Linked DNA regions of Homo sapiens: region 2 is linked to region 1. Evidence: fine-mapped expression QTL. Tissue or cell type: whole blood. Region 1 holds a variant in brackets; the other region holds the start of a gene. All regions are shown on one strand. Distances are from middle to middle.

The links. PIP is the estimated chance that this variant, and not a neighbour inherited with it, causes the effect.
Region 2: it holds the start of KRT10, and the variant in region 1 is fine-mapped to the expression of KRT10 in whole blood (TOPMed, PIP above 0.99).

What each region holds. Positions count from the first base shown.
Region 1 is chr17:40,846,278-40,851,496 of GRCh38, reverse strand. It overlaps LOC105371777 (a long non-coding RNA gene), which reads right to left and starts at 699. Exons shown (of 3, transcript XR_934754.3): 1 at 637-699. The variant G/A (reference allele first, on the strand shown) is at 2,994.
Region 2 is chr17:40,819,881-40,825,004 of GRCh38, reverse strand. It overlaps KRT10 (keratin 10), which reads left to right and starts at 2,391. Exons shown (of 8, transcript NM_000421.5): 1 at 2,391-3,046; 2 at 3,888-3,970; 3 at 4,338-4,494; 4 at 4,582-4,743; 5 at 4,831-4,956. The coding sequence starts at 2,420. The region is part of intron 1 of KRT10-AS1 (KRT10 antisense RNA 1); the gene reads right to left. RefSeq lists an enhancer at 4,151-5,124.

The DNA.
Region 1 (5,219 bases):
CTAGTTAACAATCCTAGTCACCAGTTAGGTCCTAACTCAAATGCCCCTCATTAACCAAGTCAGGTTCTCCTATTCTACCTTCTCATACTATACTGTAGTTATCCTTCACAGCTCTTAGCGCAATTTGCAATTATACATTTATTTGTATGAATATTGAAATAATGTCTGGCTCTACCACTGCATTCTCTCTAAGGGCAGCGGCCATGTCTGTTTTGCCCTCCACTGTAGCCCTGGCATCTAGCACAGTGCATAAAACAGCACATATACCCTACTGCATAGGAGACAATCAATACTTGTTGAATACCTGTGCACAGAATTACGTACAAATGCTAGAATATTCACTCAGTAAAAGCTGGAATAATGCCTGTATTACTCTCCTGGGCTCAAGCAATCTGTCCACCTCAGCCTCCCAAAGTTCTTGGATTACAGGTATAAGCCACTGTGCTTGACCACCTGTATTACTCTCTAGGTACCATTAAAAGCACTCAATAAACACTGGTTGCACAAACATTGAATGGTGGCGATATATTTCTTCTATTATTTTCTTGAAATAGTCATTGAATTTTTATCCACTGATTTATTAACTCTAAATTTTCCAACACTTATCTTTGGAAAGACTGAATGAACAAACCCTACCTTATTAAGGCGCAGAAGCTAAGGAGTGTCCATCACAAAGGAAGCAAAGAGGATGGTTTGCATAGATTCCATTTGAATCTATTTGTTTTGGTTACTCTATTTAAAATATGCTTGCGTCATATGAAATTGAATTCCACTTACTTCCTTCTCCTTAAATCTTAATAAAGGAATTAGGCTGGCTGTTTGAGACTAAAAAATCCATCAAGAAGTTGTTTGCATTTTACTGAGATATTTGTTGAATTCAATATTTCCAGAAAACCCTCAAGATACTTGTCACTCTATAGGGACACAAAATTTTCTTATCTAATATGTACAATCTTTAACTTGACAATTTCACAAGGCATATTGATATAAATCATATTGCTCAATATCTGGTGACTCAGTAGAAAGTGATCTTCAGTTTCAACAAGCAGTCTTTTAATTCATGACGCTTTTTCTTAAGGAAATTAACCTGAGGACTTTTTCCCATACATCTAAAGAGTACTAGAAGTTGCTTTCAAAACATAGAGTAACTTGGTTTCCATGTAGTATTTATAAGAAAAAAAAATCTGTAGATATTCACTTATAAAGGCAAGCTTGGAATCCTCTAATTCGTCATTAAAGTGTGCTTTGTATGTAGGCAATCGCCTAACCATAGATACAAAACTGAGTTATCTTAAAATGGCTGATGGAACACTGGCTTTCCATGAAAATATTCAGTCTGAAAATGTAATACTCCTGCCAATCTAGATCAAAATAGAACTTGTTCTCCCTTAATAACGAGGTGTTCTATCTAAAAAACATTGTGCTCTCTCTCTTTGGTGGTCTAGCAGTTAGGAATAAAAATTAAAAATAAGTAAAATACACTTTTCTCTCAATCAAACTAATATTTACTGGTCACTATGGAAGCAAATGGGAGCGGACTAGTCAGGTATGCAAATAACCTTGCCTCGCCAGGTATAAAGTGACCTGCCACAGAAGTTTGGAAAAGGGAGGTAATATAAAGGGCTGGGATATGAGGACCACTCTTTACAGCAGAAAGGCATCTGAGCAGAGCCTTGAGGAGTACATAAAATTTCAACATATGGTATTAAATGGGAGTGGATTGGCAAGAATAGGACCAAAGAGCGTGTCCTCTGGAGTGTTTTCCCATAAAACTAAGTAATCATCACACCAGCTGAGAACCATAAGTTCCTTGACCCAGGTAGTCTGCACTTCCTTTTTAGAAGACGAATTTTTGTATCTTATTCCTCCTCAAAGGCTGGGCCAGGTATTATTGGCCATCCAGAAATAAGTCCCCAGTACTTAATGCAGCATCTGGCAGAAAATGTGGGCATGCCAAATACATGTAGGTTGAAATGATGTTTAGAAATATCACATTAGGTTTATACATTCATAACACATGATTGAAAAATTCCGGTAAACGGATTAGCTAAAATCCAATGAAAATTATTAATTAAGCCTTTCATTTGGCACAATTAAAAATAAAACCCTATGTTGATTGAATTTTTCATTTTGGATCCAATTATGCTGTCACATAGGTATAGCTGGAGTATATGAGTCACCCAAAATTCTATTAATCAAATCTAGAAATAATAATATAATAATGTGTGTTAATCATTCTAATACAGCAAATGAGACACAGAAAAACAAAACCAACAATATTGTAAATTACCCAATGATCAATCTTTGTTGGAAACAATGTCCTACTCAGCAGTGGGACAAGAGCAATACCTAAGAGTTGAACAACCCAGAAGAAAAAATATGAATCGTCAGGGAAAGTCTGCTTAGAGGGAAATAAGAATCCAAGGTGTATTGCTAGATTTTGCAATAACTAGATGTGGCAATACAGAAATGTGATTTTAATTGGAGGAGGAAGATAATTATAGCTTGCAAGCCAACTAGTTAATCTAAGTGACAAACTTTGGCCCCACACCCAAGAAAAGAGGGTGAACCCAAAATAGGAGTTTATCAAGTTTCCATTACAAATGTGTTCAAGACACCTGAGCCACCCTGAAACCAAACCCTGAAACCAAGGAGTGGTGAGGGGGGGGGGGGGGTTATAGGTTACTAATAATTAATTATTAAATTTAAATAGTTTCTATAAATTTACATATGAAAACAATAAATTCTGTGTTATATCTTTGGAAGTAGCATTATGCTGGTGATCAAGTGCAATGGGATAAAACACAGTTAGCAGGCATTCCTTAAAAAATATTCCCTAAGCTAATACTAGAAACAGAAAAAGAGAGGTCAGATTAATCCTACAGATTTAGAAGTGATCCAAGTTAAGGCAACCTACATGATAATGGAATTGAAAACCACGTCATCTAAGGAACAGTTGAATGAACTGGTGATCCATAACCTGGAAAATAAAA[G/A]ACTTAGAAACACAGAGTAATCTTGTCAAATACCCAAAAGATTCTCCATCAGCAAAGCTATATTCTGTGTGGCAGATTTCAGTTAAATAGAAAGATAAGCTTTTTAATAATTAGAGCACTTCAAAGGAAGGTGAAGTGCTTCATGAGACAATGAGTTTCTCATCACTAGAAATATTTTAGTAGAGATTGGAGATATCTGATAAGGGGTTCCGTTTAGTGTTGAATATTTAACAAGAGAAGAAAGAAAGGACAGATGTCTATGAGTACCCACTGTGTAGAACACTTTGTAGAAGAACACTTTGTATGTGTTATCTAAATTGGTATTCTCAGATTTATGAATTGGATATTATTTCTCACGTGAAGATTAAAAGAGATTAAGCAATTTACCATACACCCTGTAACAGGCAATGCTGGAAGGTGAAGCCTGGCAATGACCTCTAATATCCTTTGCAAATTCTGTTCTGGTTGAAGCTATAACAGTGAATGTATTATTGGTCTAGATAATTCTATCCTGATAATTTGTCTATTTATCCAGTCTGGTATTATTTCTGTCAGAATATCCACAGACTTTTGGCCAAAGAGCATATTTAGCTTCCCCCATGACATTAAATTCAAAAGATAAATCATACTTTAGGTTCTTTCCAGCTGAATTCTGTAATTTTGATGACCAGAATTCCTAGCAACTCATTTACACTAGAAAGGGCAGAGTTTTGGGGCCGGGTACGGTGGCTCACGCCTGTAATCCCAGCACTTTGGGAGGCTGAGGCAGGCAGATCACAAGGTCAAGAGATTGAGACCATCCTGGCCAATATGGTGAAACCCCATCTCTACTAAAAATACAAAAATTAGCTGGGCGTGGTGGCACATGCCTGTAGTCCCAGCTACTTGGGAGGCTGAGGCAGGAGAATTGCTTGAACCCGGGAGACAGAGGTTACAGTGAGCTGAGATTGCACCACTGCACTCCAGCCTGGGCGACAGAGCGAGACTCCATCTCAAAAAAAAAAAAAAACAAAGAAAGAAAGGGCAGAGTTTTTATTCACATGGCTCAATTCAGGCAATTGGTTGTGGGCTTCCTGGATTAATTTTATTAAGAATAATTCTCCAGCCAGTCTGGGTTCAGCAGGAAGATGTGTTATCAATTAGTAATGTCTGACATGAGTACAGGAGAGTGGCAGCAAGAATGACTTGTGTTTGTTCTCTCTAAGCTCCACATTTCCTAAAACTATTTTTCTATTTGTAATCATCAGCTTTTTAGTGAATACGGTGAGTAAATTATTCTACCAACTAACTGTTAAAAGTAATACTTACTGCCATTTTTCCTAACACCACTCATGGAGGGTACAGGAATATATCATGAAGCAAATGAAAAGCTGCCCACAAGACTAGATTGATTATCAAAAGGGTTTTTTAAAATACAAATTTAATATAAATTTGAATTACTTCAAAAAACTTACCACAGTCCAGAATCTGTTCCTCATAGCCCTGCAGGTCCAGAAACTAGACTTCACCATGCCCAGAGGTAACCTGACACTTGATGATAGACTTACAGTGACTGTATTCACACAATGCTGATGTGCACATTAGAATGCCAGTTTACTGGCAATGAAGGACATATCTTTCCAGCTGTCTAAGGCCAACTTCCTGAGCACTCACTTTCCTGCACATTCGCCACAATGATGCTTCTAAAATGCAGAATTTTTTCAGTCATTTTTAATTATACCACATGCCTGTTCTTTATGCTAAGTTCCCTATGATACAGTTTAAATGGCTCATTCAACAGATGGTTTCCTATATTACTGATGTGAGCTCTTGAACTGTGTCTTGAACCACTCTTATTTCTGATTTCTCTCTCCTTCCAGGTACCTACCTGTGCTATCTGGCTTATTGGCTCCCTGAGTGTTCTCTTTCTCTCTCTTTTTTTTTTTTTTTTTTTTTTTTGAGATGGAGTTTTGTTCTTGTTGCCCAGGCTGGAGTGCAATGGCATGATCTTGGCTCACTGCAACCTCCACCTCCCGGGTTCAAGCGATTCTCCTGCCTCAGCCTCCCAAGTAGCTGGGATTACAGGCATGTGCCACCACGCCCAGCTAATTTTGTATTTTTACAAGAGACAGGGTTTCTCCATGTTGGCCAGGCTGGTCTTGAACTCCCAACCCCAAGTGATCCGCCCACCTCGGCCTCCCAAAGTGTTGGAATTACAGGCATGAGCCACCGCGCCTGGCCCTCTTT
Region 2 (5,124 bases), 26 kb after region 1:
TATTCTTTGGTTTAATATGATTGTAACAGAGCTCTCTTCATACCACTTGTTAATTAACTGAAAGGAGACTGGGATTTTTATATTTTCCACTGGGGGGAGAAATTATAGGCTAATACTAAAACAAAATTGGTAATACTAAGATCCAAAACTTGTGCTAATTACAGGTAAAATCAATCAAAATATCTTTTTAATTAAAATGTTTCTTTCCAAAAAGATTTCATTAATATCAAGGTTTCAACATGTTCTCTGAAGTTATTGGAGTTTTTTCTTTTCCTATCCTGATTTATCATAGCCTTCTTTAACTGTAGGTTATCTTCATCAAGAATCAATTCCCATGGTTGGGTTTCAGTTTTTCTTTTAACTACTGCCCCATTTGCATGTGCTAACAAGTTGGAAGAGTTGCAATCTGCTGGGTAGTAACCTCCACTTTAACAATCAACATTTGATTAATGCTCCCAACCACACTCCCTTCCCTACAGAAACTATTTCTGTAGTTTTCATAAACCAAAATGTGCAGCAATAAACTTAATTTGAAAAAACAATTACTAAAGGTAGAGTGTGTGCCAAATCATTACCCTTTGAATATTTTCATGATTCTAAGTTCTTTTTGTTTTGCTCTTTTTCCCCATTTGGAGAAGTTTACGGTGAGAATTAGAGTCATTCATCTCCATTAGACCAAATCCACTGGAGCAGATAATATATATACACATTGGTAAAGTGGAAAAGAACCAAGGAGTTAAAAGACCAAGCTTCTAATTGCAGTTCAACCACCTGTTACATATCTTCAGGAAAAAATCACAACCTCTCAACTTCAACTTCCTCTTCTATAAATTAGAAATAACAATAACCACACCTGTAACCCCAGCACTTTGGGAGGCCAAGGCAGGCAGATCAAGAGGTCAGGAGATTGAGACCATCCTGGCTAACATGATGAAACCCTGTCTCTACCAAAAAGACAAAAAATTAGCCAGGTATGGTGGCACACACCTGTAGCCCCAGCTACTCGGGAGGCTGAGGCAGGAGAATGGCGTGAACCCGGGAGGTGGAGCTTGCAGTGAGCCGAGATGGCGCCACTGCACTCCAGCCTGGGCGACAGAGCAAGCCTCCGTCTAAAAAAAAAAAAAGAAAGAAAGAAAGAAAGAAAGAAAAGAAATAATAATAACCACCATTCCTATCTCAACAGCTTGTTCTAGAAATTTTTAAAGCACAGTATCACAAACAGCACTACATAATTGTAAAACATGTATGAATATATACATCCAAACAACAGCAATGTCATAGCCTATGGGTAGATATAATCTTATACAATGTACCAAAATCCCAATTTACTTCACTAGACAAACTGTTATACCAAATTCTGTACACAGTATATCCAAGAAAATGTGTTGTTTTTATTGAGAAACTGAACCTAGCTTGGGAACACATGTGCACAGTCTAGTTCATAATATTTGGTGCAAGTATCATTCTCTAATATAGATTTACATTTTTGCAAGCAAATTTTTACTTGCAATCATAACATATCCAAATTTTCCCTTTTTACTCAATCAGAACTTAGTGTAAAGTACTACAAGTTAGTTCTTCGGATTTCATGCTAAGAAAATAATGCAGATTTTCTGCATTATTATGGTCTTCACAGAAACCTTAACTATGATGAATTTAAAAGTGCAAAATAATCCAGGATAACTTTATGATTTCAGATTTTTTAATGTTAAAAATAATGCCATCATTAATTAGAAAATTCTAAAATCATTACTTCCACTTTCTTAGGCAAAATATCAATATACTCTCATTTGCCAAATAAATTAAAAGATCTCCTACAAACACAATCTCCTAAATTGTGGTTTTATGGCTTTAATGTTTTATGTGTGGCAACTATTGATGCTAGTTAAATTTTTAGAAACTTTTTCTTTTTGATTCCCTACAGTTGTCTACAAGAACCTTATTGTAGCATGATCCTGCCAGACTTTATGCTATTTGTTGCTCCAATTAAAACTGTTTAAAACATGAATTTGAAAAATCTTATTTTAACTATAATTTTGTAGCTGAAACTTTTTTTTCTAAACTTTGCAAACATTCTATGCAACCTGAATTAGTGCTGAGAAAAATGGATCTTAACGGTTGCTCAATGTTCTTCAACAGGTGAAAAGCATAATAAAACATGCTCATCTGAACTCCACCCATTTTCAATTTCAACATAGCAAACCTCCTGTTTATTCTTAGGGCAAATTCAAAATTGTACATATTAGGATTGGTTATTACTGAAGATAATTTATGCAATCATAAGCCAAAGATGCTAAGTTGGCAAAAAGAAAACAATGTAAGTAAGCAAACTCTAACACATGTGGACACACCCTCTCAGTATATAAAGGCTTGTCACTGTCCTTGGTAGCAGGCACTCCCTGGGCTAAACAGCATCACCATGTCTGTTCGATACAGCTCAAGCAAGCACTACTCTTCCTCCCGCAGTGGAGGAGGAGGAGGAGGAGGAGGATGTGGAGGAGGAGGAGGAGTGTCATCCCTAAGAATTTCTAGCAGCAAAGGCTCCCTTGGTGGAGGATTTAGCTCAGGGGGGTTCAGTGGTGGCTCTTTTAGCCGTGGGAGCTCTGGTGGGGGCTGCTTTGGGGGCTCATCAGGTGGCTATGGAGGATTAGGAGGTTTTGGTGGAGGTAGCTTTCGTGGAAGCTATGGAAGTAGCAGCTTTGGTGGGAGTTATGGAGGCATCTTTGGAGGGGGCAGTTTCGGAGGTGGCAGCTTTGGTGGGGGCAGCTTTGGTGGAGGCGGCTTTGGTGGAGGCGGCTTTGGAGGAGGCTTTGGTGGTGGATTTGGAGGAGATGGTGGCCTTCTCTCTGGAAATGAAAAAGTAACCATGCAGAATCTGAATGACCGCCTGGCTTCCTACTTGGACAAAGTTCGGGCTCTGGAAGAATCAAACTATGAGCTGGAAGGCAAAATCAAGGAGTGGTATGAAAAGCATGGCAACTCACATCAGGGGGAGCCTCGTGACTACAGCAAATACTACAAAACCATCGATGACCTTAAAAATCAGGTAAGAGGTATTTTTAAATCCAGCTTTAAGTATCTTGTCCATGTAATCCAGACAGATGAATCTTAAATTAAGCACAATGTGGCTGTTCACTATGCTTACCCATGTTACTTTCTTCCTTCAAAAATAACCCAGTCTCATCAAAGATAAACATCTGTGAAACTATGGTCATGGCAATCTTCATCCAGCAAGTGTGCTACTTGTCTTAAGAGGATGGGAGATTTACTAAGCACTTTTGAGGTTTTAATGAGCATACAATGAGTCCACAGTTAAAATATGCTAGGCTATTTACAAATGTAGAAACTGAAAAAAAAAATCATGATATGAATCAGAACAAAATGTTATTCAGACTGATAACAAGCCATATTCAGTACCAACATGGCAAGAAAAATAAATTTTCCAGTATGAAAATGGGACACTGCTTGCCTCTAAGGAATTTCTGAATTGTACCTATTGTGTACCAGTTCAGAGTGTATTTATTTATTAGTATTTATCATGAGTTAAACAAATGCAGGTGTGAGTCAGCCAAAGCATGGCTGAAATACATGGAAATCACATAGTCTAAAAGAGGAGGGCACACTTACAGGAATACATCTATATAATTCCAGTTAGTTTTCAGAAAGGAATAATTCGTGTACAGAAATACAAGACTGGAGAAATTCCAAGAGAACAAATAATTCAAAGTTAAGTATATGGGTAAGCCTGCAATATTTCATATTTAAAATAAAAAATTTTCCCAAGATTTTGTAAGAGAACAACATAAAAGTGCAGAGTGCATCTATGTCACTACAAAAGCCATATCTGCATCTGACCTCTTCTCAAATAACTGTGCCTCTCCCTCCAGATTCTCAACCTAACAACTGATAATGCCAACATCCTGCTTCAGATCGACAATGCCAGGCTGGCAGCTGATGACTTCAGGCTGAAGTAAGTTAAGTGATCGTTGTATAATACTATCACAACGAATACATCAGTGGTTTTTAACAATGACTTGGGATGCCCTCAATAACATTTACATTTTTCTGAATTCACCCAAAGTTAAATAGTATTGGAGTTATCTGAGAAATTTTCCATGTCAGTGTTACCTTTTTGGCAATATTAAAGGAAGAAAATGCATTTTAAAGTAACTGCTAAGGTTTTTTCCATTAAACCACTATTACTTCTAAGAGAACTGTACATGACAAATATTGCCATTACATGAGATCAACTATGTAGCTGCTTTTTAAATAGTCTCTGCCCAGATACATCTCCCCTATATAAGTTATAACCAGTATTGATATCATGCTTGTTTCAGGTATGAGAATGAGGTAGCTCTGCGCCAGAGCGTGGAGGCTGACATCAACGGCCTGCGTAGGGTGCTGGATGAGCTGACCCTGACCAAGGCTGACCTGGAGATGCAAATTGAGAGCCTGACTGAAGAGCTGGCCTATCTGAAGAAGAACCACGAGGAGGTGACACAAAAGTTATACTTTTCCCAGCCAAAAGAGAGTTCATTATGGTCCTCGTGTAGCCAATAAATCTTTCTGTTCCTCAAACAGGAAATGAAAGACCTTCGAAATGTGTCCACTGGTGATGTGAATGTGGAAATGAATGCTGCCCCGGGTGTTGATCTGACTCAACTTCTGAATAACATGAGAAGCCAATATGAACAACTTGCTGAACAAAACCGCAAAGATGCTGAAGCCTGGTTCAATGAAAAGGTAAAGTAATCTTCCTTATAGTGAAACTCATGGAGGTTTTATCATTTCAGAATTTCCTCACCCTTTTCCTTGTTTTTAATACTCTAGAGCAAGGAACTGACTACAGAAATTGATAATAACATTGAACAGATATCCAGCTATAAATCTGAGATTACTGAATTGAGACGTAATGTACAAGCTCTGGAGATAGAACTACAGTCCCAACTGGCCTTGGTATGTTAACTCTCATGAAATGACTTCAACTTTATCATACAAAGTTTCATGCTCACCTAAGAATATGCAATGCAACAAAAAAATGCAGAGTTGGAGGTAAGAAAGAGAAAACAAAGTGAAGCTCATGTTAATGGAGGAAAAGTACTACTAGTGTTGATCTAAAAGTGC